Regions from separate parts of the Homo sapiens genome. Here regions 2 and 3 are each linked to region 1. Evidence: fine-mapped expression QTL. A gene starts in region 1. Each other region holds a variant in brackets. All regions are shown on one strand. Distances are between the middles of the regions.

The links.
Region 2: its variant is fine-mapped to the expression of RHOD in minor salivary gland (GTEx, PIP above 0.99).
Region 3: its variant is fine-mapped to the expression of RHOD in whole blood (Lepik 2017, PIP 0.95).

The regions. Positions count from the first base shown.
Region 1 is chr11:67,051,194-67,061,344 of GRCh38, reverse strand. It overlaps RHOD (ras homolog family member D), which reads right to left and starts at 4,498. Exons shown (of 5, transcript NM_014578.4): 1 at 4,311-4,498. The coding sequence starts at 4,442. RefSeq lists silencers at 4,360-4,429, 4,440-4,599 and an enhancer at 7,419-7,528.
Region 2 is chr11:67,916,875-67,927,025 of GRCh38, reverse strand. The region is part of intron 3 of LOC112268076 (translation initiation factor IF-2-like); the gene reads left to right. It also overlaps the pseudogene RPS3AP40. Among named protein-coding and RNA genes, the nearest start is that of LINC02754, 38 kb to the right of the region's middle. The variant A/C (reference allele first, on the strand shown) is at 5,036.
Region 3 is chr11:67,348,758-67,358,908 of GRCh38, reverse strand. POLD4 (DNA polymerase delta 4, accessory subunit) reads left to right here and starts at 5,363. Exons shown (of 4, transcript NM_021173.5): 1 at 5,363-5,606; 2 at 5,832-5,921; 3 at 6,107-6,218; 4 at 6,890-8,137. The coding sequence starts at 5,510. The coding sequence ends at 6,914. The region is part of intron 2 of LOC100130987 (a long non-coding RNA gene); the gene reads right to left. RefSeq lists a silencer at 5,046-5,295 and enhancers at 5,476-5,525, 5,519-6,100, 6,101-6,683. The variant C/T (reference allele first, on the strand shown) is at 5,161.

The DNA.
Region 1 (10,151 bases):
TTGTACTTTTAATAGAGATGGGGTTTTACAGTGTTGGCCAGGCTGGACTCCTCCTGACCTCAAGTGATCTGCACACCTTGGCCTCCCAAAGAGCAGGGATTACAGGTGTGAGCCACCACGCCTGGCCAATAGTGAGGAAGTTCTTACGAGATCTGATGGTTTAAAAGTGTGGTGCTTCCCCCTTCTCTCTCTCTCCTGCTGCCACATAAGAAGTGCCTTGCTTCCACTTCACCTTCCACAATGATTGTAAGTTTCCTGAGGCCTCCCCAGCCATGCAGAACTGTGAGTCAATTAAACCTCTTTTCTTTATAAATTACCCAGTCTCGGGTAGTTCTTTATAGCAATGTGAAAATGGACTAATACACCCAGCCCCTCCGCAGCTTCTGACCTTTGTCCTAGAGTAGGGGCCTGTCATTGTGAAGGGCACTGGTGCCCTTGCATCTGAGCTCCCAGCTTGACCACCCACTCAGTCACCTTCTTGATCTGAGCTGCAAGGCAGCCTGCTGGAAATCTCTTGGGAGACATGTTTCAGTGCTTTGCAAATGCCCATGGTAATGACACCACCACCCACCATTCTCTAAGGATCTTCTGTGTGTGGCTGTGTACTGGCACCATCTCCGATCCTTGCAAGCTCGGAACGTCAGTACAACCTTCACTTTCTGATGATGCCCAGAGAGAGGAAATGACTTGTTCAAGGTGACACACTGAACAGCTGGCTAGTGACAGAGCCAGGTCTTTGTGGCTGCAGAGACCAGGCCTTGTCCTCAGCCACCTGCCTTTCCTGAGGTTACCAACTCCAGTTCCCGGAGACAGAAAGGGGCTGGGTTTCCCCTCTGGCTTGTAACTGTCACAGCCCTTTCCCCCACTCGGGACGTCATCCTAGAGACTCTGTCTGTACCTTTTGTTGTGTTGTTCTTTGACCCCCAGGCAGGGTCACCCTCTGTCCATGGGATCAATGGCACCTAATTTTATCTGTTAAGCCGTCCTCAGCCAGAAAAGAAGGACTGGGCCTGTGCTGGACCAGGACGGAGATGACTCAGGCTCAGGTCTGCCCTCCAGGGGCTCACAGACAGAAAATGAATCATTACCAAGATGGGGGACCTGGCTCAAGAGGGAGTGTCGGGGCATCCCTGGTTAGGACACCCATGGGAGTCCAAGTGCGAACCAGGAAGGACCCAGGGGGCTCTAGCCAGCAGGGCCGGGTGCTCCCTGCCACCTCCTATCCCCATGCTGGTGTGGGGGCTGCTAGGCTTTGAACCTGTGGGAATGGTTGCAGCCACAAATGCCAGCCAGGACTGGGCAGAGGCTGGCACCCCAGCCTGGGGCTTCCCCCTGTCCTAGGAGCTCTCTCCACCTTGCCCTCCCCTGCTGCCCTGAATCCAGGGTTGGGTCACAGCCAGATGAGGGTCACTGAGGTCCCTCCAAATCCTCAGGCTGCTCTCAGCCCTTTGCTGTGTGCAGGAAGTCTGGGAGATGGGACTCCAGCCTCCTGGCTGCTGGCCCCTTGGGCTTCGAGGGCTGCCTAGAGGAAGAGTCTGGTGCTAGGGACAGGGGCAGGAGGAGGCTGGGTCCAGCAGGCAGAGCACTGGGGGCTGTGGAGAAGGCCCTGGTCGGGAGGGGGAAGACCTGGGCTCTAGATCAGTGCTGCCACTGCCGGGCCATGTGCCCCCAGGTAAGCCTCTGGGTTCTGGACTCAGTTTTCCCATCTGCAAAATGAAGCCTTTCCAACTCTTACACGTTGTGGGTTCTTTTAATTAATTTATTTAATTACATATATATATATATATTTATATATATTTTGAGACGGAGTCTCGCTCTGTTGTCCCCGAGCTGGAGTGCAATGGCGCGATCTCGGTTCACTGCAACCTCCACCTCCTGAGTTCAAGCGATTCTCCTGCCTCAGCTTCCCGAGTAGCTGGGATTACAGGCGCCTGCCACTATGCCCGGGTAATTTTTTTTGTATTTTCGGTAGACATGGGGTTTCACCATGTTGGCCAGGCTGGTCTTGAATTCCTGACCTCAGGTGATCCACCCACCTTGGCCTCCCAGAGAGCTGGGATTACAGGTGTGGGCCATTACGCCCGGCCCATTGTGGGTTCTTTAAATGAAGAGGACTCTCCTGCTCCAGGGAACTCAGAGCCCCCAGACGGGAGGAGCCTGGACAAATCCAGCCCATTTTCCTGGTGATAAGCATGCCCTCCCCCCATTTCTGGCCAGCCCCAGCATGTCCCTCAAAGCATTCACATCTTATCAACTGGAAGAGGCCCATTTCCACGTCATAACTCCTCTGAAGTTGGGATGGTCTCACCATCAAGGACATCTCAGAGCTGGTGGTGAGGCATCAGCCCTCCAGCCCCCGCCCATCAGGTGCCTTCCCCTGGGCCTGGGCCACCTGTCCCTGTGTGGTGCTCTTCCCCGGGTGCCCTCATTGTTGGGTTCCCATGGGCAGCATCTAGGGGCCCAGAAACATGTTTCCCCCAACTTAAAAAAATGTATGACTGGTCAAAGGAGGTGACACCAGCTCCGCAAGCTACTAAACAAAAGTGGCTCAATGCCACTGCAGCAGAAAGCACATGGGCCAAGGGTGGGAGACAGGCAGACAGATATCATCCTGATAAGAACTACAGTGTGATAAGAACTGGGGTAGGCCCGACCGTCCTGCTTGTGCTCAGATGCTCCAGCACCTATACAACCCCAGGGGCTTAGAGGATGCTGGGAAGAAAAGGAGGAAGAATGCCAGTTGCGGTGGCTCAGGCCAGTAATCCTAGCACTTTGGGAGGCCGAGGCGGGCAGATCGCTTGAGGCCAGGAGTTCGAGACCAGCCTGACCAACATGGCAAAACTCCATCTCTACTAAAAATAAAAAAATTGGCTGGGTGTGGTGGCTCACACCTGTAATCCCAGCATTTTGGGAGGCCAAGGTGGGCGGATCACCAGGTCAAATGATCGAGACCATTCTGGCCAACATGGCGAAACCCTGTCTCTACTAAAAATATACAAAAATTAGCTGGGCACGGTGGCACGCGCCTGTAGTCCCAGCTACTCGGGAGGCTGAGGCGGGAGAATCGCTTGAACCTGGGAGGCAGAGGTTACAGTGAGCCGAGATTGTGCCACTGCACTCTAACCTGGCGACAGAGCGAGACTCCGTCTCAAAAATAAAATAAAATAAAATAATTTTAAAAATTAGCTAGGCGTGGTGGTGGGCGCCTGTAATCCCAGCTACTTAGGAGGCTGAGGCAAGAGAATCGCTTGAACCCAGGAGGCGGAGGTTGCAGTGAGCTGAGATTGTGCCAATATCACTCCAGCCTGGGTGACAGAGTGAGACTCTTCTCAAAAAAAATAAAAATAAAAAAAAAGAAGAGATGCTGGAAGCAACTCCATGGACTCCCAGGACAACAGGGCTGAGAGGCGGCAGAGCAGGGGCCGCCTGGTGCCCGTGGAGTCTGCCTGGGCAGTCAGTGAGCATGTCAGGAAGGATTAACGGTGGGCATGCCTACAGCGCCAAGGACATGCCAGCTACCGCACGGGAGCTGCCTGTCAGCCTCCCCTGGGCTCCACTTCACCACTGCCCTACAGTCCCTCTACCCCATGGGGTTGTTGTGAGGAAACTGAGGCTCAGAGAAGCTAAGCAGGTTACAAAAGGGCACGGGGCTCAGAGGAGAGCAGAGACGCGGGCCCAGCAGCTGAGGCTACAGCTGGCGTGCTCCCACCCTCCAAGGCAGAGCCCATGGCATGTGCTTTCCAGCGGCAAGAGCTGGAAGGGAGACAATGTTTCCCAGGAGCGACATGTGCCAACTCTCCGTGAGTCCTTCCTGTGCACAGGCCGGGGCTGAGTGCTTGAGGTCTATTAACTCTCTGTCACAGTGACCCTGTGTGGTGGGCACTGTCACTCACCTGTGATGTAGTGAGGGACACAGGCACAGCAGGGTTAGGGGACTTACCCAAGGGCACACAGCTATAAGAGGCAAAGCCATAATTTGAACCTCGGCAGTCTGGCTTCCAAGCTCTCAGGCCCTCAGCGGAATTGTGTGGCCAAGTGCTGTCTTAGGATCTTGTGTGCACCCAGGTCGCCTCACTCAGTCCTTGTGACACCTCTCCCCGGTGGATGCCATTCCTCCGGCTTTACAGATAACATCACTGAGGCCTTCATTCCCAATGGCTGGGGCGGAAGAACTCTGCCCTGGACCCCAGGCCCCGCTGGGACACCCCTCGGAGGCCGGGTTAGGCGCACAGCCTGGGCCGCTCCGGCACGGACCTGTACACCCGGGCGCGCGAGCGGAACCGGGCGAGGCGGAGGCGCGGGGCACTCACCTCGGGGAAGGCCCCATCGGCGAAGACCATCAGCAGCGACGTCTTCCCGCAGCCGCCGTCGCCCACCAGGACCACCTTGACGGACCGCACGCCTGGTGGCGCCTCCTCACCCGCGGCCTGGGCCGCCGTCATCCCGGGGCCGGGCGCTGAGCGGGCGGGCGGGCGGCTGCGGCGCAGAGACCCAGACTGCGCGGGGCAGGCCCGGCGGGGCAGGAATGTGGAAGGGGCGGGGCGGCGGGAGGAAGTGCGAGCCGGGCGCCCCGAGAGCCAGGTGAGAGGCCCGGGCGGCTGGGCTGGGGCCCTTCCTCTCCAGGCCGTCTAGGTCCCTGAAGAAACGCTGCCCGAGCACCTACTGTGAGCTGGCCGCGCTGGGGCCACGGGAGGTCGGAAGGGAGAAGACAAACAGCGGGACCATGACAGTGGGGGCGGGGGTGTGCTCAGGGGCTGGGTCCCAGATCCCAGGCAGGAGCCAGTGACCTTTAGTGAATGAATGAATGAATGAATGAATGGTGCATTTCCCCAGGGGTCTCAGGACGCAGCACAACACAGGCGTTTCATGCCAGGTGGGAAGGGGATGACCCCCTTCACTGGCCCCACCAGGCCTGGCCTGCCCCCTCCCGCAGCACCAGGAAGCTCTGCTGCAGGTGGGCAGCCACCTGACACCGTGGCTGGCCACGATCTAGGGAAAGCGATAGAACCTTCCCTCTGTAAAGTGTGAGTGTTTCTTATTATTGCACCATGAGATGTCCCCCTGGTGCCCAAGGGCCCGGGGACCCTGAACTGTTTAAGACAAAATCCAGGCCCTGCCTTGAGAAGCCCACGGCTTAGAATGGTAGACACGCAGGACATCAGTGTGATCAGAACTACAACGGGAGTAGGGACAGGCAGCGGGACGGGAGTAGGGGAAAAGAGCTCCTCGCCCACGTTGAGGGAGTCAGGAAACCTTTCAGAGTCTTGAGGAAAAAGTGAAACACAGTCAGATGGGGGAGGGAAAAGGTGTTCCACCGGAGACAGCGGCACGTGCGAAGCTGCGGAGGCCGGAGCGGAATGCTGCCCCCCCACCCCGCCCCCGCAGAGGGTGAGGCTCGCTTGCACAGTGGTGCAGCATGAGGAGCTGGTGCTTGCTCAGTGGAGCACGTTGGATGCCAGCAGTAAATCCAGCATTGAACTGGGAACTCATTGTCACCTGATCTCTCCACTTCTCCTAATGGCCAGAGTTGAAATCTTTTAAAAATGGGCACAAGGGTCTTCCCAGATCTTGGACTGAGTGTTTCTATTGAAGCTTAAAAGAACAAGGGGCAGACGTCATTAGGTTCCCCCTAATTTATGCTGGTCATGACATCCCCCCTCATGGAGTTCCAAGTCAGGCAGGTGAAAAAGCACCTTCAACCTCCTTTAAACTCACTGTGGTCTAAAGAGGCAGCCAGGGCAGGAGTCACTAGGTGGAGAGGCAGAGCCCAGCTCCTTGACTCCTCTGCCCGGCTCCCGCTCCGGGCTGTGGTCTGCAGGCTGGATGGAGCCCCACTTGGAGGGAAGGATCCTCCCCAGCACAGCTCTGCCTTTCCAGGTGCCCCTTCCTCCCCGAAACTGCCACAGGGCTCGGCAGTGACTTGACACTGGGCTGGGCAGGTAGCTCCAGAGCAGGGCTCCCCGCCCCAAGGAGTGGTGAGAGGGGCCCCACCCCCTCGGATCAGCTGTCAGCATCTTCCTCCCAACTGCTGCTGTCGTCAGGCCTTGGGTGGCAAGGCTGGAAGGCAGGTGGGGCCAGACTGGGGGTGGAGGGAGCTGAGAGTCAGGCAGAGGCGTTTGGCCTTGGTTGCTATAGGGATAATCTCTGTAATGACACACTTGATGTTTGTCATGCTATACAGTTTCACTGAACATTTCCTAATAATAACAACACCCATTAGTGGATTGCAAGCCACGTGTAGGCACTGTTCCCTAGGAGGTAGGGACTCTTAGCTCCATTTCACAGATGAGGAGCCTGAGGCCCAGAGAGGCTAAGTTGTTGACTAACATCCACAGCTAGTAAGAGGCTGAACTAGAATTTGGATCCAGGCGTGACCCCAAAGCCAGGTGGTCTCCCTCCATCACGCCTCATCTGCACAATTGCAATTTCATTTAGCTCTCAGACCACGAGGTAGACCAAGCAGATGACCTGCTTCCTCCCATTTTACAGATTTGGGAACTGAGCCTCAGAGAGAGGCAGAGGGGTGTCTTAGACCAGCAGGACACAGCAAGGATTCAATCTCCTGACGTCAAGCCCCAGCCTCCGCTCCCCCACCATGCTTACGCTCCTGCGAGAGGGAGCTTAGTCACCAGGCCACAGAAATCGGCTCTGGTTGGCAGGGAATGTCCCTGAATCTCAGACATTGCTGGACCTGGGACCATACTGTTTTCCTGGAATTTATTTTTAGAGTGGTGGCCCAGGTCACACAGTCTGCCTGGCCAGGGTACTGTTTACTGTTTTAGTGTTTACTGAGGCTTCTCAGGACTTGCAGCCTGTGGGAGACTTAGGCCCCTCGAGGCCCCACCAACCCCAGGCCCAGATCTGTGGGGAGCCCAGCACCGTGGCCTACTGCCCTGAACCCTTCAAGGGCAGGGGCCAAGGCTCACCGTATCCCCTAGAGGAGTGCCTCTCTCAGGCTGGCACCCAGCTGTGGCTCAGGACGGTATGCCCAGTTGATCTCCTGGCCAGACAAACCAAAGGGACAAGAAAGAAAAAAACAGAGTGAGAAAGAGAGGAAGGAAAGACGGAAGGATGGACGGCAGAGGGGCTGGCTTAGAAGAATAAACAAACTGAAGAAATGAATAAAGGAACAAATACTTGCATGGATGACGAATACCACATGTGACATGAATGGGGAGTCTGTGGACAGGCAACCACTCTCCAGCCTCCGCCTACTCCAAGGCCCCCTGGCCTCACCCCTCTCCCCATTTTCTCACATCCCACCCCCATCCTAAGGCCAAATCCTATGCGGTCCTGATCGAGTCTCCACTGCCCTCATGTGGTCGCTCAGCTCCCTGCACAGTCATCACCTGGGGCTGCCTCCCTGCTTGGGGTTCCTGGCTTGGGGGTGTGGGGTGTTTGTGGATGGCTGAATGAAGGGGAGAGATACAGTCTTTCCCCTTGGAGTGGCTTGGCAGGGTGCACGGGCCCTGGTGTGTAGCTCCCGAAGCTCTTGGTTCCGCGTGCATCCCCTGTCCTCTGCTCTTTTTTTTTTTTTTTCCATGGGGAGTCTTGCCCAGGATGGAGTGCAGTGATGTGATCTCGGCTCACTGCAACCTCCGCCTTCCGGGTTCAGGCGATTCTCCTGTCTTAGCCTCCTGAGTAGCTGGGATTAGAGGCACCTGCCACCACGCCCAGCTAATTTTTGTATTTTTAGTGGAGACGGGGTTTCACCATGTTGGCCAGGCTAGTCTCAAGCTCCTGACCTCAGGTGATCCACCCGCCTCGGCCTCCCATAGTGCTGGGATTATAGGCGTGAACCACCGCGCCCGTCCCTGGCCCACATTCATCTGAAATACTGGATCCTAAGAGCCTTTGCCCTCAGCCTGAACTCCTCCACCCAAAGCCTTGACCTCGCATTTACTGAGCACCTACCTGTGCCGGACACTTGGCACATGTCATTTCATGCCATCCTATGAAGTATGTTCAATTCTTATCCTCCTTTGACAAGTGAGGAAACTGAGGCCCAAAGAGGTTGGATAATTTGCCCAAGGTCCCGCAGCTAGTAAGCAGAGAAGCTGGGATTTGGACCCAGGCCCTTGGGCTCCGGAGTCCATACACACAGAATGTCCAAAAGTCAGAGGTACAGGGCTCTTTAGAGGCCATCTTATCCAACACCCCCATTCTTCAGATGGGGAAACTGAGGCCTGAGAAGGGAAGGAACTTACACAGCAAGTGAGCAGCAGACTCAGCTTTACGCCAGGTGGAAACCAGAGGGCCTCTGCTCCCAAGTTTCTTTTTGTCTAGCCTGCCCAGACAGCTCCAGCCTGGCTGCCATCTAACTGGAGCCCCAGGCCACGGGGACGTGCCCTCCTGCCCTGGCCTCCTCTCCCTGCCAAACCATTATTGATCTTTCAGGTTGGGACGGAAGGGCTGATAATAGGGTGGGAGGGGTGGAGAGAGAGGAGGTCTGGTGGCCCCATCCTGGTGCTTATTAAGCCTTTTGATTTGTCCCTTTTGGGGGTCTGCAGGCACAGACAGATAGAAGAGAGGAAGGGAAGTTTGGAGCTTAGAGCTGCTGCCGACCGTGATGCAGTGGCTTGCTCTGCTTCTCCCACATGCAGGCCTAGCCCAGGCAATGCTGCTGGGCAGGTCAGAGACCTCCACACCTGTCCTCTTCGGTGGGGCTCCCAGACAGAGGGGGCCTGGGACCCTGGAGGTGTGTCCTTGGGCCCAGGGCTGGAGGAGGGGAGATGAAGGGGTGGGGAGGGATGGGACCCTGGATGTGGGGTGGCCTGAGAAAGGAGGGAAATAGGTTGGGAAGATTACAAGAGAGAAGAAGGAGGCAAGACAGCTTCTCAGAGCCTGGGTTGTCCCAGCTTCTCTCCAGGATGGCACCTCAGTTTGAGTCCTGCTGAATGAACCCAAACCTAAAGGCAGCTCAGAGGCCTCCTGCCTGCCCCTCCTGCCACTCACTGGCGAGGGTAACATTCACTGATGTCCCTCTGTGTCACCTCCAAAGCTGCTTAGAGTGACCCCTCCCTCCCTTGGACCTGCTCCTGCTCAAGACCCCACCATGGCTCCCCACTGCCAGCAGGATAAGGAGCTTCTCCCTGAGCTTGGACACACAGCCTCCACAGCCCAACCCCACCTGGCCTCTCAAGCCTCAGCCCAGCTGTGTCTCCCCAGACACTGTGACACCTTTGCTCAGGCAGTTTGAGACCCCTCTCCCTCCTCCATGTGTACAGTCCCCCTGCTGCAAAGCCAGCTCTCATGCTTCTACCTCCTCCAGGAAGCCCTCCCTGGTCTCTGCCCCTCTTACCGGCTCCTGCCACAGCCCGTCTCATTGGTTGCCTCAGAAGCTCTTCGGAGTCAGTCCCTGTGGTGGACAGGCCTCCCAGGAGCTGCTGGGAATTCTCCATCAGCTCATCCTTATCCATGCTTGATGTCCCACGCTTCTGATCTTCCAGGGGTGGGGAGGGGAAGGCAGCAGCCTGGGACCCAGCGGGGGTTTCTCTTATGCCCTCAGCCTTACATTCAAGGAGCTGGGGAAGGGGGCGTTGTTGCTGAGTGATCCAGAGCACTGGCTCTGTAGCAAAGACAGGCCGAGCTTGAGTCCCAGCTCTGTGACTTTCTGGCTGTGTGGCCTTGGGCTAGTTACCTAACCTCTCTGAGCTCTTTTCCACATCTGCAAAAAAGGGGATAGCAGCAGCACTTACTTTGAAGTGTTGCAGGCTGAACACCAGCACTCGCTGAATGTGGAAGGCCCTTCTACCCTTCAGAACTCCCCCTTGGCTCTCTTCTTCCCACCCTGCTCACTCCCTCCACCATCCCCCACTTTATTCTGGCCAAATGGATACACTGGCCAAGTTTTCGCCCCCTTGTGCCCTTTTGTATATGGGGTTCCCTGCTAGGAATGCTTCTCCTGCCGTGTCTACCTGATCTCCTCCTTCTGGCCCTGAAGCCTCAGCTGGGTGTCACCACCAGGAAGCCTTCCTTGATACTCCCCATCATCCTACTCTCTCCTGCCAGAGCTGGCTCAGTGGCCCCTCCTCTGAGCTTCCCAAGGAGTCTGATGCATTGGTCCTTCCTTTTTTTTTTGAGACCTTTTTTTGAGTCTTGCTCTGTCGCCCAGGCTTGAGTGCAGTGGCGCGATTTCAGCTCACTGGAGC
Region 2 (10,151 bases), 870 kb before region 1:
CTTCAAAACAGATGAAAGATCACATTCTACATGATTTCATTCAGATGGAAATCTATAGAAATAGGAAGTCGATTAGTGGTTGCTTAGGGCTGCTAGGGGCATGAGAGGATAGGGGGTGTTAGCTAAAGGGTATGAGGTTTCTTTTTGAGGTCATGAAATGTTCTAAAATTGACTGGTAATGTTTGCGTATATCTCTGAATATATTAAAAACCATTGAAATGTAAAAAATGCGAAGAAAAAACAGCCCAAGTTGCAATTTTATTCAACACTTGATTGGCTTTAAAAATAGATTCCAGGCTGGGCACGGTGGCTCACACCTGAAATCCCAGTGCTTTGGGAGGCTGCGGTGGGAGGATTGCTTGAGGCCAGGAGTTCCAGGCCAGCCTTGGCAACATGGCAAGACCCTGTCTCTACAAAAAAATAAAAAATAAATATCAGCTGGGTGCAGTGGCTCACACCTGTAATCCCAGCACTTTGGGAGGCTGAGGCGGGCAGATCACCTGATATCAGTTCAAGACCAGCTTGGCCAACATGGTGAAACCCCTTCTCTACCAAAAATATAAAATTTAGCCTTTTGGTACTCTGAGCAGCACCATGGCGGTTGTTAAGAACAAGTGCCTTATGAAAGGTGGCAAAAAGGGAGTTAAGAAGAAAGTAATTGGTCCATTCTCTAAGAAAGATCAGTATGATGTGAAAGCACCTGCTATGTTCAATATAAGAAATATTGGAAAGACTTGGTCACCAGGACCCAAGGAACCCAAATTGCATCTGATGGTCTCAAGGGTCTTGTGTTTGAAATGAGTCTTGCAGATTTGCAGAATGATGAAGTTGCATTTAGAAAATTCAAGCTGATTACTGAAGATGTTCAGGGCAAAAATTGCCTGACTAACTTCTATGGCATGGGTCTTACCTGTGACAAAATATGTTCCAAGGTTGAAAAATGTTCAACAATGATCGAAGCTCATGTTGATGTCAAGACTACCGATGGTTACTTCTTTCTTATGTTTTGTGTTGGTTTTACTAAAAAACACAACAATCTGATACTGAAGACCTCTTATGCTTAGCACCAACAGTCTGCCAAATCCAGAAGAAGATGATGGAAATCATGACCTGAGAGGTGCAGACAAATGACTTGAAAGAAGTGGTTAATAAATTGATTCCAGACAACATTGGAAAAGATGTAGAAAAGGCTTGCCAATTTATCCTCTCCATGATGTCTTCATTAGAAAAATAAAAATGCTGGAGAACCCTGGGTTTGAAAGGCATGGAGCTTCGTGGTGATGGTAGTAGTTCTGGAAAACCCACTAGGGACGAGACACATGCTAAAGTTGAATGAGCTGATGGATATGAACCACCAGTCCAAGAATCTGTTTAAAGTTCAGGCTTAAAACAGTAGCAAATAAGAAGTCCTATTTGTGAAAAACAATCAAGAAACAACAATGAAAGAGCAAAATTAGCCTGGTGTGGTGGTGCATGCCTGTAATCCTAGCTACTCCGGAGGCTGAGGCATGAGAATTACTTGAACCCGAGAACAGATGTTGCAGTGAGCCAAGATTACACCATTGCACTCCAGCCTGGGCAACAGAGTGAGACTCTCTCCAAAAAGAAGGAAAAAAAAAGTATCTGGGCTGGTGGCATGCGCCTTTAGTCTCAGCTACTCTGAAGGCTGAGATGGGAGGATGGCTTGAGGCCAGGAGTAATTTGAGGCTGCAGTGAGCTATGATTGTGACACTGCACTCTAGCCTGGACTACAGAGCAAGACCCTGTCTCTTATACATACATACATGCATACATACATACATACATGCATACATACATACACACACACGCGCACATACATACATACCCAGGCTCTACCTCCGGTGATTCTGACTCAGTAGGGTGGAGTATCCCCTAGGGATCCTGCTATTCAGCCTGGTCTGGGATCCACTTTTCACTGGGAACTGAGACACTGGCTGTGAGCCTTTCTGTCCTGTGATGTAGAGGTCATGGCGATGCAGGTTCAAGCTTAAGAAGACCTGACTGTGCATTAGGTATTGTGCTGAACATCATCTCTTACTCTCACAGCAACATCCTTAGAAGGTTAATGATGTGTCCCCGCTCTACAGATGAGGAACTGAGCTTTCAGAGGAGTTTAGCTTGTTCAAAACTTATTCTTCGTATTGGAAACTTTGTACCCTTTGAGCAGTGTCTCCTATCCCCTACCTTTCCTCCACCCCAGCCCCTGATAACCACTGTCCTACTCTCTATTTCTGTGAGTTCAACTTCTTTAGATTCCACATATAATAAAATCATGCAGTATCTGTCTTTCTGTGCCTGGCTTATTTCACTTAACACAATGTCTTTCAAGTTCATCTATGTTGTTGAAAATGACAGGATTTCTTTCTTTTTTAAGAGTTAATAGTATTCCGTTGTGTGTATATAGTACATTTTCTTTATCCTTTCATCCACTGATGGACACTTAGGTTGATTCTATATCTTGGGTATTGTGAATAGTGCTGCAGTGAACATAGGAATGTAGGGATCCCTTCGACATATTGATTTCGATTTTTTTTTGTCTATACCCAGAAGTTGGGTTGCTGGATTATGTGTTTTGAAATCTATAGCACAGCAGCGTGACTATAGTCAATAATAATGTATCTTTCAAAATAACTAAGAGACTACATTTCAAATGTCTCATCATAAAAATTGTCAGTAAATTAGTGGATGGACATGTTAATTAGTTTGATCTAATCATCCCACATTGTATACACATATCAAAACATCACATAAATGTGTACAATTATGATTTGTCAATTAAAATAACGTTAGTTAAAAAAATAAGTAACTTGTTCAAAGCCCCAGTTGGGATTGATGGAGCCGGGACATGCACCAAGGCTTTTGCTCTCAGGCACACAGAGTCCTTGGGCCACGAATGTTGAAGCCCTACCTGAGATTTCTACTGAGATCAGTGTAGGGATTCAATGTCTCAGAATCATCCCATCCTCCAGGGCCCACAAGTCCATGACCTTTGCCTCTACCCCCGACCCTGCTGACCTGAAATGTGGCCCCTGCTTTCATTTCCGGGAGCATACAACACTTACACCAAGCATTGATGGGTTTTATTGACTTCATTTGAGACGTGGAGCCATGGAGAGGGTCCCATGATCCTTGCTTGGTGTTGGCCAATTCACTGAATTCTCTCTTTGACTTCACCCTTCCCTTTTCTACTCACCTCCTCTGTCATGGATTGCTCGGGGAATTCTGAGCCCTAGTTCCTTTGTTTTGCAGATAACCTTCACTCGTCTCTGCAACGAATCCCAAAAGTATGTAGTTGAGGTGACTGCAAGGTGCTTGACACGCAAGAGACTCCACAAATGGGATTCGGCCTCTGGAAAGTGGTGGTACTTCCAGATTTATGTGGATGTTACTTTGTTTTTCCCTATAAAATATATTCTTTAAACTATCAAGCTCTTGGCTCCTGGCTGCAGTCCTTTGCTGGTGGCAGTGGGCTGGGTACTGTCACCGGGGAGAAATGCTGCCCACTTAGAGAAAGAGAAACTGGTTCTCTTTAAGAGGCAGACGGAGGTTTCCAGTGCCAGTTTGTTTGGAGGCAAAATGGCTGTTGTATTAAAATTGCCCAAACTTGGGCTGGTGCCTTGTGTGTTTAGAGCTCAAAGCCATGATTGTTTTCATTTTTTTTTTTTTTTTTTTTTTTTTTTGGTGGTCGGTTTTCCATCCTTTTGCTTGGTAGGTTTCTGCTAATAGCTTCGACCTCAAGAGTCCCATTATACAGACACTAATAGCACCTACTATGTGTCAGTCTGTAGTGCCTACTATGTGCCAGGCATTGGAGATAATATAATGATGAACAAGATAAACATGGCACTTGGAAAAGAGAGTCTAGTTCCCACTCTCAGCCCACCCCAAAGAGAGGCCAGAATTGGGCTTCCAAAGATCTCAGATGCCCTTGCATCATCTCCATGAAGAGGGTGGGTGAAGCTTTGGTGTCTGAAGAGAATTTGGCTGGACAATCCCCAAGGGTTGGAATGATGGGAAGGAGCTGCCATCTGTGTTTAAGGTGAGAAGAGGGGAGTGGCTGGATATCAGAGGAAGCCAAGATGAAGAGAAGGTTTTTGTGAGTTCCTATGCATAGTGGAGACCTGTTACAGTGAGGGTCCCTGGGGCTGAGCCTGTGGGTCAGTGGAATGATGCTGTGAGGAGGGTCTTGTTATAGCAGATGGCCCAAAAAAGGCTGATGGATCATGAGCAGCTGGAAGAATGGAGAGTTCGGGGGAAGTAGTTCCTACCTGGCTTTCCAACAGTGTGTAAGCCCAGAATTCTTACATAAGCCCATGGAGAAGGGAAAGCAATGCTGGTAACGACAAGATTGAATTCTCCACCTGCCAGGCATCCAGGGACTCAGAGCAGATTTAAGTGAAGTTACAGAAATAGGAATGTGACATTTCCTACATCCGGATGTGCTGGAGCAAAATGTATTCCCTCTCTGGTTTGTGGGGAAGGAGAATGCTAACAGACAAGACTCCAGGTTTTCGCTCTTAAACCTGATGCCTAGAAATGCATTTTCTACTGGATGCAGACAGAAGCTCCATATAGACATATCCATTGCTGCATCGCTCATGCCTTGTGTTCTCCCTAATTTTCCCTTTTTAAACCACAGAGGAAGAAAATTCCAGCATCACTTCTGGCCTCTCAAGAGTGAGTTAGGTGGCCAGGTGGGGTTATTCTTGCCTGTAATCTCATAATGAAGGGGTGGCCTGCCCCTCCACACCTGTGGGTATTTCTAGTCAGGTGGGATGAGAGACAAAAAAGAAATAAGACACAAAGTATAGAGAAACAACAGTGAGCCCAGGGGACCGGCGCTCAGCATACCAAGGACCTGCACTGGCACCAGTCTCTGATTTCCCTCAGTTTTTATTGATTATTATCTTCATTATTTCAGCAAAAAGGAATGTAGTAGGAGGGCAGGGTGATAATAAGGAGAAGGTCAGCAACAAACATGTGAGCAATAGAATCTATGTCATAATGAAGTTCA[A/C]GGGAAGGTACTATGACTGGACGTGCGCGTAAGCCAGATTGATGTTTCTCTCCACCCAAACATCTCAGTGGAGTAAAGAATAACAAGGCAGCATTGCTGCAAACATGTCTCACCTCCCACCATAGGGCGGTTTTTCCCCCATCTCAGAATTGAACAAATGTACAATCGGGTTTTATACCGAGACATTCAGTTCCCAGGGGCAGGCAGGAGACAGTGGCCTTCCTCTATCTCAACTGCAAGAGGCTTTCCGCTTTGACTAGCCCATCTCAGCACAGACCCTTTATGGGTGTCGGGCTGGGGGACCGTCAGGTCTTTCTCATCCCACGAGGCCACTTTTCAGACTATCACATGGGGAGAAACCTTGGACAATACCCAGCTTTCAAGGGCAGGGCTCCTTGCGGCTTTCCATAGTGCATTGTGCCCCTGGTTTATTGAGACTAGAGAATGGCGATGACTTTTACCAAGTATACTGCTTGGAAACATCTTGTTAACAAGGCACGTCCTGCACAGCCCTACATCCCTTAAACCTTGATTTCATACGACACATGTTTTTTCAGCTCCAGGTTGGGTCAAAGTGGTTGGGGCAAAGTGGCTGGGGCAAAGCTACAGATTAACAACATCTCAGCAAAGCAATTGCTTAAAGTACAGATCTTTTTCAAAATGGAGTCTCTTATGTCTTCCCTTTCTATGTAGACACAGTAACAGTCTGATCTCTCTTTCTTTCCCCTACATATCCCCCTTTTCGTTTTGACAAAACCACCACCATCATCATGGCCCCTTCTCCCTGGTCGCTGTCTCTCTGGAGCTGCTGGATACACCTGTAGACTAACAATAGAAAAGTCAGACATACAAGGATTAATATAAAATTTGCAATAGTGGAATTTCCGGTGGTTTTAACCCAAGTGACAGGGGGCAAGAGGACGGTGTGGGTGCTGCGGCACCCGGGCAGTCTCCCACCTCCTTTGTGTCTTAGTTGCTGTTTCTCATAGTTTTCAGTCTTTCTCCTCACCTACTGACTCGCACCTTTTATCTCTTTGTCTCCCTTCTCTTATGGTCTCTCTCTCTCTCTCTTTTACACTATCTCTCTCCCCAATCTCACTTTCTGTGTCTGTCTCTGATCTCTGTCTCTTTTTCTTTCTATTCTTCTCCCTGGCTCTCCACATGTGCTGTTTTCTTGGTGGATGGTAACTTTATCTGTTCTTCTGATATCACCATTTTGTTCACCCTGCGGGTCGATGATGCTCGATTGTGGGTTTTCTGTCTCTGCGGAGGCACTTTCATTTGCATCTCTGATGGGTTCATTGTAGAACTTCAAACGTCTAGTGGGTATCCAAACAGGAAGCTGATTTTCTCCTGGTGAAACACGAGCAAAACCTCTCCCCCATGTTATCACCTTACCTATTTCCCATGTTTTGTTTTTGTTGTCTTTCCACCAAATCAGTTTTCCCTCATGTGGGCTGTTCTTTTTACCAGTAAAATGTTCTGCAGAAGTAGTGGTCTGATTTCTATGTATGTTTAGAAAATTTAAAGTATAGAGTGTTAGATTAAGTTGCATCTGGGGAGTGTTATACTCCTTACTGTCTTTTTCCTTTTTTTGTTTAACCAATTGAGCTTTGAATGTTCTAAGCAGGACAGGTAAGATCTGCATCTGGCACAGCCAGCCAGGTCTCCTTACCCTCTGCTTCCCTTTCTGCCTGTGACTGAATGGGTATGTCAGGGTCTAGTAGGGGTTCCAGGAGGAAGAAGCCTCATTAACTTCTATTGTGCAGCAATTGATGGCCACCCAACTTGAACAGTGGGGCTTATCACCTCATGTACTAAGACCGGAGATAGCTGATGCCAAGGTTGGCTAAATTAGTAGCTTGAGATGTTAGGTTTTTCATTTGAGGTTTCTATGCTGCTATTGTCTTCTGCTCTTGGTCACAGAGGCTGCCACAATCCGCATGTCAAGTCCTCATGTGACAATATCCAGAGACAGCAAGGAAGAGGTACAGTGTATTCCTGCATGTTTCTTAAAAAAATGTTTTTGATAGAGAATAATTGTACACATTTGTGGGGTCCATGTGAGATTCTGGCACATGCATGCAATGTGTAATGATCAAATCAGGGTCTTTAGGATATTAATCACCTCAAACATTGATCATTTCTTTGTGTTGGGAATATTTCAAATCTTATTGCTATTTAGAAATATACAATAAATCCATTTATCAGGATACAAAATCTATGTACACAAATCAGTAGCAGTGCTATACACCAACATCTACCAGGCTGAGAATCAAATCAAACCCTTTTATAATAGCTGTAAAAATAATATACTTAGGAATATACCTAACCAAGGAGGTGAAAGACCCCTACAAGGAAAACTACAAAACACTGTTGAAAGAAATCATAGATGACACAAAGAAATGGAAACACATTCCATGCTCATGGATGGGTAGACTCAATATTGTGAAAACGACCATACTGCCAAAAGCAGTCTACAAATTCAATGCAATTCCTATCAATATACCATCATCATTCTTTATAGAACTGGAAAAAAAAATGCCAAAATTCAATTGGATCTAAAAAAGAGTCTGCACAGCCAAAGCAAAACTAAGCAAAAAGAACCAATCTAGAGGCATCACATTACCCAACTTCAAACTATATTACAAGGCTATAGTCACCAAAACAGCATGGTGCTGGTATAAAAATAGGCACATGACCAATGGGACCGAGTAGAGAAGCTAGAAATAAAGCCAAATACTTAACACCCAACTGATCTTCAACAAAGTAAACAAAAACAAAGTAGGGAAAGTACACCCTATACAACAAATAGTGCTGGGATAATTGGCAAGCCACATGTAAAAGAATAAAACTGGATCCTCATCTCTCACCTTATACAGAAATCAACATAAGATGGATCAAAGACTTAAATCTAAGGTCTGAAACCATAAACATTCTAGAAGATAACATTGGAAAACGCTTCTACACGTTTGCTTAGGCAAACAGTTCATGACCAAGAACCCAAAAGCAAATGCAATAGAAACAAAGATAAATAGATGGGACTTAATTAAACTAAAAGCCTCCTGCACAGCATAGGAAATAATCAGCAGAGTAAGCAGATCACCCACAGAGTGGGAGAAAATTTTCACAAACTGCATCTGACAAAGGACTAATGTCCAGAATCTACAGGGAACTCTAATCAGCAAGAAAAAAATAATCCCATCAAAAAGCGTGCCAAGGACATGAATAGACAATTCTCAAAAGAAGATATACAAATGGCCAACAAACACATGAAAAAGTGCTCAACATCACTAATTACCAGGGAAATGCAAATCAAAATCACAATGCAATACCACGTGTAAAATAAACAAAAATAGGGCCAGGTGCGGTGGCTCACGCCTGTAGTCCCAGCACTTTGGGAGGCTGAGGTGGGTGGATCAGGAGGTCAGGAGTTTGAGACCAGCCTGACCAACATGGTGAAACCGAGTCTCTACTGAAAATACAAAAATTAGCCAGGCATGGTGGCAGTTGCCTGTAATCCCAGCTACTCAGGAGACTGAGGCAGGAGAATTGCTTGAACCCGGGAGGCAGAGGTTGCAGTGAGCTGATATCGCACCACTGTACTCCAGCCTGGGTGACAGAGCGAGACTCCATCTCAAAACCAAAACAAAAACAAAAACAAAAAAAGCAAAAATTGATGTTGGCACGGACGTGGTGAAAGAAAGCTTTTACACTGATGGTGGGAATGTAAGCTAGTACCACCACTATGGAAAGCAGTATGGAGATTCCTTAAAGAACTAAAAGTAGATCTACCATTTGATCCAGCAATCCCACTGCAAGGTATCTACCCAGAGGAAAAGAAGTCATTATATGAAAAAGATACTTTTGCACACGTTTACAGCAGCAAAATTCACAGTTGCAAAACTATAGAATCAGCCCAAATGCCCATCAACAATTAGTGGATAAAGAAAATGTGTATATATATATGTGTGTGTGTATATATATATATATATGTGTATATATATGTGTGTATATATATATATGTATATATACCATAGAATACTACTTAGCCTTATAAAGGAATGAAATAATGGCATTCATAGGAACCTGGATGGAGTTGGAGACCATTATTCTAAATGAAGTAACTCAGGAATGGAAAACCAAACATTGCATGTTCTCACTCGTAAGTGGGAGCTAAGCTATGATGATGCGAAGGCACAAGAATGAAACAGTGGACTTTGGGGGCTCAGGGGGAAGGTGGGAGGGGGTGAGAGATAAAAGACTATACATTGGGTAAACTGCTTTGGTGATGGGTACGCCAAAATTTCAGAGATCACCACTAAGGATCTTATCCATGTAACAAAATACCACCTGTTCCCTAAAAACTATTGAAATTTAAAAAATATATACATACAACAAATTGTTGTAGTCACTTTCTGTGATAATGAACACTAGATCTTATTCCTTCTATTATATATTTTTATACCCATTAATCAACTTCTTTTCAAACCCCTCCTATTCCCGGCCTCTGGTAACTATCATTCTACTCTTTATCTCCATGATATCAATTTTATATAGCTCCAGGGCACACAAGTCCATAACTGCGGTCTCTATCCCTGACCCTGCTGACCTGAAACATGGCCCCCACTTTGATTTCCAGGAGCATAAACTGCTCATATAAGTGAGAACATGCAATAGTTTTCTTTCTGTGCATGGCCTAGTTCACCTAACTTTATGACCTTTAATTCCATCCATTTAGCTGAAAATGACAGGATTTCATTCTTCTTTATGGCTGAATACTATTCTATTGTGCGTATATTCCCATTTTCTTTATCCATTCATCCATTGATTGACACTTAGATTGATTCCATATCTTGGCTATTGTAAATAGTGCTGCAGTATATATGGGGGTACAGATATCCCGTTGATAGACTGATATCCTTTTTTTTGGATATATACCCAGGAGTGGGATTGCTGGATCATATGGTAGATCTGTTCTTAGTTTTTTGAGAAATCTCTGTACTTTTTTTCATAATGGCTGTACTAATTTACATTCCCACCAACAATATACGATAATTTTCTTCTCTTCACATGCTTGCCAGCATTTGTTGTGCTTTGTCTTTTTAATAATAGC
Region 3 (10,151 bases), 300 kb before region 1:
TGCCTATAATCCCAGCTACTCAGGAGGCTAAGGCAGGAGAATCGCTTGAACCTGGGAGGTGGAGGCTGCAGTGAGCCAAGATCCCACCACTGCACTCCAGCCTGGGCGACAAGAGCGAGACTGTCTCAAAAAACACACAAACAAAAAAACACCATCTAGAAAGGTTAGCAAGATCACAGAAGGCTTTTGTTTGTTTTGTTGTTGTTGTTGTTAAATAGAAGTGATCTAAACATGTTATTGCTGAGTGAGTAGGGGGCGGGTGGAGAAAAATGGGGAGGTTTAGAGAATGGAATAAGGAGACAACCACAGGAGAGCCAAAGGGTGTCTGGGCAGCCAAATAGAACCCGGTGATATCAGCAGGCACCTTTGCCGTGGACCTGTCACCATGGGCAGTGACATTCCTTAGCATTTCAGAGGGAGGGACAGACTGGAGAAGAGGGCATTTTCCAAGGCTGAGGATTGGCAAGGCAAGAATGGCAGAGAATCAAGGGGGATTCTAGGCTGCTGGAAACTACTGGAAATTGGCTGGGAGCCAGAGCCAGGCAGTAAGGGAAGAGTGGTCAGTGGAGGGAAACAGAGGAGGGGAATAGGCTGGGAGAAGAATCCTGAATGGGGAGCGCTGGGGTTCCTGCATGCTGAGGACGCAGAACGCTCCCACAGTGGCGGTGGCGTGGTGGAGGGAGAGGGGGATGAGAGCACCATCAGAGAGGGCACTTCAGAGTGTGAGTTCTTGAACTCTCTCAAATAGCCCCTAATGATGGTGACAGGGGATGTGAGCTGCTCGTTTGTGTTTTGGCACTGTGTCCCACAGGCATCTTGTGAAAATGCCAGCACCACAGCACAGGGAGCACCTGGTAGATCACAGGGCACTGGCGTTTTCTGTGAGTGAGTCATTGGTTTTCCATCCAGAGCTGCTTCAGGAGATCCAATGAGTTTTGTTGGTTATCGAGGTTCTACCTCCTAAGAATGGCTTCAGAGTCAGAGGCCCAGAGGCTAACATGAGACTCTAAGGCATTGCAATGTCAAAGGGTGGAGGGTGTGTTATCTCTAGTATTCCTCATGTCCCCACAAGGATCGGGAGAGTGGGCAAGAGAAGACCCTCCTCTCCATCATCTCCAGATAGAATGTAAGGATTAGAAATCTTGTCATCATCTTGAGTGCTTAGAAACACACCTATGTTTGAAAGAATGAGCATAAAATGGAGAACTATCACTTGAGGCAGGGGCAACCTCTGGGGGAAGTGGGGCTAGAGGAGGCTCTGATGGGAGATGGCACAATACTCAGATCTTGCCAGTTTTCCACTTTTGCAAAGACTGACCTACCGTCCAAGACTTACAGGCCGCCTCATGATATGAGAGGCTCATTCAAGCACTGAGTTTACACACACATGCACACACACACTCTCACTTGCCACAGCCACCCTAAATGGGGAAGGGCAAAGGGAGGCCCTCTGTTCCCCTTAACCTAGAGGGCAAGGGCTAGTGACTCAGTCCTGGCTGGGCACTCCGATGGGCAGCTCCCTCTCAGCTTCCCCTTCTGCTGTGGAGCTACAACTGTCCCTGCCTTTGTTCCTTCAATTCTCAAGCTCCCTGACTCAGCCTCGTTCCTGAACTTCCCAGCAGGGGACAAAGCCCTTGTCAGTGGGGTGGTGTGGGGGCAGTGGCAGTGAGGGGGATCTGGGGGAAAGCTGTAGAGTCAGAGTTCCAGTCCTTTTCCCAGTCTCAACCTTCAGGGTCCCTCAGCCTTGCCAGTTCAGTGGTCACCTCTAGGCTCCTCCCCAACTTGCCCAGATCTCTCTCTGAGGCCAGACTGATGGGGTGGAAATGGTTAACTAGAACCTTCCTCCCACCCAGCTGGGCAAAGTCTGACACCTGGTGGCCAAGGTGAGTAATGGCCAGAAGGCCCCTTTTCAAGTCTTCCCGGAACTGCTCCAGAGCCTGGATGGCCAAGGTGAAAGAGGAGGTGACTAGAGAAGAAGGTGTGGAGGGTGGTAGGAGCAGGACAGAAGATGCAGTGGTAGAAAAACCCAGAGACCCCATCCTTTCCACTCAAGCTGCTGCGATGGAAGCACATTAGGCCAGAGAACCTGGACCAGGGGAAGAGGGAGTGTCTGGGAAGGCAGTGAGGGACTAGGAAGGACTGCCTGAAAGAATTCTGGCCCACAGGGTGAGGAATGGGGCCCACGGTGTGTGAGTATGTTGGGGGCCGGGGCCAGGGGTATTCTGGCTGCCCAGAATCTCCTGAGTGGGACTGACTTTCAGCTCAGGGTGGGTGGCAGGGCCCAAGGGCCTGAGGAAGGGGGGTACTGGCGAGAGGGAAGAAGAGCTGGATCCACCCCACAGCCCACTGGGTCCCAGGCAGCTGCTCCCCTCTCTCCACCTGCCTCCAGCTTCCCAGCTCTACCTGGCTCTCCCCACAAACCTCATGGTGAGGTGGGGGAAGGGAATGCAGGTGCAGTGCTGAGGCCCCCATTCTACCACATTGTCTGAGCTAAGCCAGACCTAATCCTTCCCTTGAGTGCAGTCAGCGGTGGGCCTCAGCCCCTGGGAAGGTGCCGGGTTCCTGTTTCAGTTCTTTTCTCTCCTGGACCCCCAGGACTCTGGGCTTGGCCCTGAAGCAAGGGTCTTGGGTATTGTTACCAGGCTGAGGTGCAAAGGTCACTCCTACTAGTCTCATCACCAGCCTCTGGGTGTCGGGGCTGACACAAGGGTCTCAGGACATTCCCCCAGGGAGAGAGAACTCAGCACCCAACCCAGAACTCTGGCCTGGCCATCCAGTCTGAAGCCTGAACAGGCTCCAAGACAGCAGTTTAGGGAATGAGGCCAGGATGCTGCCTGAGTAGGTGAAGGGGTTCTAGGCAAGAAGGTACAGAAGGTGGATGGGGTTGGACAGCAAAGAAGGAAAAGACCTGAGGACAGGAAGGTCAAGGTCCAGCCTAGTCCTCAGCGCACCTTAGGGATTCAGGTGCTGAGTCAGGGCATGCCAGTTGGACAGGGATGGTTCCAAAATCCCTGGGTGCCAACTCTTTCCTAGGGGCTCCACCCTACTGCCATCTAAGAGAGAGCAGCAATGCTGCCTGCAGAGAGTTCCCTCAACTCCAAGGCAGAAAGCCAGGCCTAGGGTGCCTGCACTTGAGCTGACCACTCTGAATCTTTTTCTTGGGTGTGGGGGTAGCTGAAGCCTGAGGGAGACATCTTCCAGCCTGGGTTGGGGCCTGTGCCAGGCAAAGCTGGGGAAGCTGGCAGGGACAGCCCAGCCAACATCTACAGAGCAGCTCAGGATGCCAGAGGCTGCCCAAGGAGAAAAGGCAATAGGCCCAGGCGGTGGTAGGAGCTACTGTGGCTGCCCAGCGGCACACCCCATTTCACGCTCCCTGGGCGGTGGCAGGGCCCCACGGCTATCAGCTTTCAGGGGTGGGAGGGACTGGGAATGAGGAGGGGTCTGCCCCACCCATGGCTCCCTACTCCCTCAGGGCTTGGTGGACTCAGGAGGTGGGTGCCACACACCTCTGGAAACAGCCCAGGAACCCTTGCCAAGACCCTCTGGGGAGGGGTAGTCAATCCCCCAGAGCCTAGACGCCATCCCTACCTAGCATGCTCAGCACCTGACTGGACTCAGCACCTAGGCCCTTCCCAGCCCTGGTAGACAGGGCCTCCCTGCTTCCATCACTAACTCCGCAGGGACACTGTCTCCCTGAATGTGGGCCCCACTTAGTCCGCAAGGCAGATGGGGGGATTAGACTAGGCCCAGCCCAAACAATACAGCAGAAAGGGCCCTCCAGCTCCATGCAGTGCCCCCACAAGCTCCCTCCTCTAGGACGCCGATGGGGAGAGCCAGGCAGGACGTGGACCCTGAAGACATGGCCTGCTCCTCTGCCTCCCCTCTGGTGGTCTCCTTTCCAGAGCAGCTTCCTCCCTTGTGCCCACGTGTACCAGTGGCTTAGCCCTCTTCCAGTGCAGAACACCCAGACCCCAGAGCAGGGAAAGGAGGAGGCAGAGGCCTCTGAGCAGGCAGCAGCCCAGGAGTCTGTGCCCCACCCTCCCAGTATCCCTGGAAGGAAGAACCGGATGGGATCTCTGGAGGGTGATTAGAGCTGGGCTGGTCCCTGTGCTGGTTCCCAGACTCCCACTGGCCAGTACTTTTGCCTCCTGCCAGGAAGTTGGTGAGGGGGAGGCAGCAGTATGGGTGAGTCAGTGATGACAGGAGCCCAAGGGACAAAGGTCATGGGTGGAGAATTGAGAGACATTGTTTACAGCAGTCCACCTCCTCCAGGAGGCCTTCCAATGCTAATCATCCCTGTGGTCCTAACCAATCTCTGACCCACCCTTTCCCTCTTCTGGTAGGAATTATAGCCTCTCACTGACAACTGTGCATCTGTCTGCCTTGTGACAGTGAGCTCCTGGGGTGCAAGAGAGACTGTGGTTTGATTGGGGCCCTACAATGCCTGTGACTATCAGCAGTGATAATCATTTAGCTATACTTCCTACTTTCAAAAACTTTTTGACATCTATTTTAATTAACATGTGGGAAAGTGCTTAGAACAGTACTTGGCACATGGTACGTGCAATGAGTGTTAGGTTTATTATTAATATTTTCTGCTCAGACTCACATTATTGTGAGAGACAGGGCAGATTTTGCCAGTGAAGAACTAGGGATCCAAACACATTGTGGTGGGGGGACCAGACCCTTGCTCTGCCTTCCTACTCAGTATGGAATCTTCCTGACTGGTGGGGCGGGCCGGACACGACTTGGGACCCCAGGAGAGTCAAAACGGCAAACACTTACTCGGACTAAGAGTGGGCAGCATCTTTGGGCACAGACTGTGAGAAAGGAGGTTTCAGAACCCATGGGCTTCTCCAGCCAGGTCTCCTGGGGCCAGTGGGGGTTGGGTGGGAGCCGGGAAGGGGCCTGGATTAGCCCAAACTCTCTTCAGACCTCCAGACCTGCCCCCACAAGGCGGGGCGGGCCAAAGGACCGAGTGAAGGCTCCAGCTGGACTCTAGGGAGTTACAAACTGGCCACGGGGATTAGCGAAGCTGAAAAGAACATTTGCCTAGGAAGGGAAAACGGGAAGTGAGAGGCTGAAGATAACTCTCCTGAAGTCTCTCGGGACCCACAGCAGACCAATGGGGGCCGGGGAAGGTGGTGAAGTCGGGGCATC[C/T]CGACAGGTCCCCCGCCCCAGCCTGCCCCTCCTCCCGCGGCCCACAGCTGAGGCACCGCCCCGCCCCTCACCCTACACTGCCTACCATTGGCTAGCGCCAGGGCCCCGCCCCGCATAGGCGGCCTGCCATTGGCTGAAGTCTTTCCTGTTTGCGTGCTTTTGGGGGTGGGGGAGGCGTCCCTCCCTGGACCCCGGCGACTTCCTCTCTCGGTTTGTCTGGGTCATCTTGTCTGCCCGCCGCTGGCCTGGCCCCGTCTGTCTCTCTCAGCAGCTGTCTTTCTCGCGCCCACTGGCCGGTCTCTCCTCTTCCCCGCAGTTGCCTCCTTCTCTGCCTGCCTGGGTGGCCGCCATGGGCCGGAAGCGGCTCATCACTGATTCCTACCCGGTTGTGAAGAGGAGGGAGGGGCCCGCTGGGCACAGCAAGGGGGAGCTGGCACCCGAGCTAGGTCTCTGAGGTGTGAGGGAGGCAGGAGGAGTGGACACGGAGGGGCCTAGAGGAGGCCCCTAGAGGGGCGGAGGGGCCGATGGAAAGGGAAAGGTGGCCTGTCCTCCCCTCCCGACACCAGGTCTAGCTGCGGGGTGGCAGAGGCAAAGCGGTGGTGAGGAAGGCTGGGAGGTGAGGGGCAGGAGACTGAAGCCAACCTCGTACTGAAGAGCAGCTGTCATTGCAGGGGAGGAGCCCCAGCCCCGCGACGAGGAGGAAGCGGAGCTGGAGCTGCTGAGGCAGTTTGACCTGGCCTGGCAGTACGGGCCCTGCACCGGTGAGAACCCACCCAGCCCCACGGAGGCGCCTCTCCCAGCCAGTCACCCACACGTCTCTGAAGTCACCCAAGCGCTTGCGTGACTCTGACCCTCAGGAACTGTCTCCCCCCAACACACACATTCTCCAGCTCAGACTCTACCCCACCCCCCACAAGTCTCCAGAGTCTTCTTCCCACCCTGGCAGGGATCACACGGCTGCAGCGCTGGTGTCGGGCCAAGCAGATGGGCTTGGAGCCTCCCCCAGAGGTGTGGCAGGTGCTGAAGACCCACCCCGGAGACCCCCGCTTCCAGTGCAGGTCAGAGACAGGCCGGGAGGGCTTTCAGGGGAGCCAGGGCCTTCTCCAGGCACTGTCACCCTGCTGTCCTGACCTGAGGGAGAAATGGATGGAGGGTTGGAAGGCCTTGCTGAACAGGCAAGAAGATTCTATGAGGTGCCTGGCTCAGGAGGACACGCCACTATAATAATTCTTTTTTTTTGAGACAGAGTCTTGCTCTGTTGCCCAGGCTGGAGTGCAGTGGCGCGATCTCGGCTCACTGCAAACTCCGCCTCTCGGGTTCACGCCATTCTCCTGTCTCAGCCTCCCAAGTAGCTGGGACTACAGGCGCCCGCCAACACGCCCGGCTAATTTTTTCTATTTTTAGTAGAGACAGGGTTTCACCGTGTTAGCCAGGATGGTCTTGATCTCCTGACCTCGTGATCCCACCCACCTCAGCCTCCCAAAGTGCTGGGATTACAGGCGTGAGCCACCACACCCGGCCAATAATTCTTACCTCTACAAGCTAGTGGGGGGCAAAGGTACACCCAGGACCCAAGGAACTATCTATTTAGAACTGAGGGGTTTCCCAAGGACTATGGGCATGGCCAAGAATAAGCTGGTGAAATCAGATCCAGGGACTCAACAACTGATTCTCTGTTTCTCTCTCTCTCTCTCTGGGGTATCCCTCCCTCCCACCCCATCTTCCACAGTCTCTGGCATCTCTATCCCCTATGAGGCACCACGTAAGACCTCCTGCCCTTAGCTCTCTTGCTCACCACCCAAGAACCTCAGGACAGAAGCGAGAGCCCATTGCTCCTGCTCAGCTCAGCCCGGCTGCGGAGGAACCCTTGGCAGGCAGAACCTGGAGGTGTCAGAGGCTCAACTCCTCCATCTAACCAGCAGGCTCCCAGAGTCCCCGGAAGAGCCTGCGCAGCTGAAGCAGAGTGCTTCTAGATGGAGAGTGGTCACTGGGGAAAAGGACCTGGCCATCACCTTCCAATACCTGCTGCCTGTCTCCCTGACCCATGATCTGGCAAGTTAGGCACAGTCAGACATGGACAGTTGATCCATGAGGAAAAGATGCTCTCCCACCTAAGGCCAGGAATCTGAGAGCAGGACTGGCTGAGCTCCCAGGGCAAGGGGTTCACTAATGCTTATCAATAAAGAATATTGAGCCTGGAATCCTGACCTTCAGTCCTTTACTGTGGCCCTGCTTTGACTGGCAGTCCCTAGCAAGTTAGGAGATGAGAGAGGCACCACTACAGCTCTTTTCCTTCAAGAAAGTCCTAGGCCGAAGAGGGAGGAGACAGTCATCTTGAGACGGATCAAGTCCTCGGAAGAGCTGAGCGACCTCTGGTGCCCCCTGGTGGCCCACAGGGAAACTACTCATGACTCACCTTCTGGAGCAGCCAGGGAAAACCTACCTGACTAGCCAGCCACCTGCCTTGCTAAGCGGTGCCCACCTCACAAACATGGGTGCTTTGCCAGAGAAGGACCCCTGGGGTCCATAGCTCATGAAGTCCAAACATATCTATACATTCCCAGCAAGCACCTCTGGCTTCCCACATCGGGGGCCACCTTGATCCAAAGCAGGGCTGGCGAGGGTCTCAACTTGCAGGACCTGCTCAGACATGACCATCATCTGAGGGGCTTTGGTAAGAAACTGATGGCTGGGCGCGGTGGCTCACACCTGTAATCCCAGCACTTTGGGAGGCCAAGGAGGGCGGATCACGAGGTCAAGAGATCGAGACCATCCTGGCTAACATGGTGAAACCCCATCTCTACTAAAAATACAAAAAATTAGCCAGGTGTAGTCCCAGCTACTCAGGAGGCTGAGGCAGGAGAATGGCGTGAACCCGGGAGGCAGAGCTGGCAGTGAGCTGAGACCGCATCACTGCACTCCAGCCTGGGTGACAGAGAGAGACCCCGTCTCAAAAAATAAAAAAATACAAAATAAAGGCTGGGCGCAGTGGCTCACGCCCGTAATCCCAGCACTTTGGGAGGCCGAGGGAGGTGGATCAGGAGGTCAGGAGATCGAGACCATCCTGGCTAACATAGTGAAACCCCGTCTCTACTAAAAATACAAAAAAACTTAGCCAGGCCTGGTGGCGGGCACCTGTAGTCCCAGCTACTTGGGAGGCTGAGGCAGGAGAATGGCGTGAACCCGGGAGGCGGAGCTTGCAGTGAGCCGAGATCGCGCCACTGCACTCCAGCCTGGGCGACTGAGCAAGACTCCATCTCAAAAAAAAAAAAAAAAAAAAGAAAGAAAAAAGAAACTGATGGTGCTGGGGGATGGAGGAGAACTGGCTGGAGCCAGAAACAATGCCCAGGGGACCCAGGGTCAGGGTATGACATGGAGAATAGAGTCAGTAACCGCTTCTATAGTGTTACCTTCATCTACTGTGGCAGCCCTCTATCCTGGGGGTAGATGGAGGCAGCACTAGTAAGTTCTTGGAAACAGGCCTAGAGGGCAGCTAAGTGGCCTGTGTAGCCCCCGTCTGAGCACTGATCATGTCTCAGGTACTTTAAATGTATTACCTCGAATCCTCCTAAAAAACCTTCCAGGTAGGTTTTACTGAGGGGGAACTGAAACTAAGAAAGGTTAAGTAAAGTTGCCCAAAAGCACACAGCAGGCAAGAGGCAGTGCAGTGACCAGGGGCCACTTGCATTAACCTCTTCCAGACTATGCCATACCTCCTGCCCAGCTGCTAAGCACTCACTATGTGCCAGGCACCAAAGGTCCCCTTGGGGTATTACTAATGGTCAGGAGATGGGCAAAAACAAACACGTAAGTTAATTATGACAGGTAGCAGTCAGTAGTAAGCAAAATCAGAGTTGGGATCAGAAAGGGTCCAAGGATGCCAGGGGCGCTATGTTAGAGAGACTGGTCAGGGAAGGCCCTCTGCTAAGGTGGCATTTGAGCAGAGACTTGAAGGAAGGAAGGGAGCAAGGTCTGCATCTGAGGGTTCCAGGCAGAAGGAGCAACAAGGAGAAGCTTCCTGAGGAAGGAGTGTTTCCAGCCTGCTCCAGGAAAGGCACTGAGGAGGCCAGTGAGGCTGGGGGCCAGGGAGTGAGGAAGGGTAGTGGGAATTGAGGGCAGACAGGCAGCGGGCTGGTCCCTAGGGCCATGATAAGAAACTGGATTTGATTCTGAGTGAGAGGGGAGGATACTGGAGGGCTTGAAGCCAATAAATGACAGAGTCAAGCTTATGTTTCGAAAACATTACTCTGTTGGTGGAAAACAAGATTGTGGAGCTGGGGAAAACAGAGGTAGCAAAACCACTCAGGAGGCTACTGAAGTTGGCCTCATGAGAGCTGAGGGTGATCTGGACCAGCGTGGGGAGGTGGACTGCTCAGAAGTGGCCAGGTACGCTCTGTATTTTTAAGGAAGAGCTGACTGGCAGGACTTGCCTATTGGTCGACTGTGGGATTTAAGAGGGAGGAGCCAAGGATAACTCCAAAGGTTTTGGTTTGGGCGACTGGAAGGACAGAGTTCTCATTACTAAGATGGGAAGACTTGTGGGAAGGGTGGGGCAGGAATCTGGAGCTCCATCTTAGACATGCTGAAGTATCTGTGCCACTTCCAAAGGGACATGGGGTATAGGCAGTGGATATGTAAGTCTCGGATTCTGAGGCATTCTAGGTTTAAAATATAAACTTGGGAATCTTTTAGATGGCCTTGAAAGCTCCAACAGTGGATGAGATCCCCAGAGTGAGTGTAGAGAGAGAAGTGATCTGAGAGATCCAGTAGCGAGGGAACCTGAGGTTACCGGAGATGAGGAGGCAGTTGTGTGAGTGAGATCTTTGTGAGGGTGAGGAGGGCCAGGAACCAGGATACAGGAAGAGGGTGGCCTTCAGTAGACACATGCACTGTGACAGGAAGGGAGGCAGAGAATATGAGAGGAGCCTCAGGTAGGGGGATATATTTGGGGATGGGAATATTCAAGAATCAGATATTTACTAAGAGCCTGA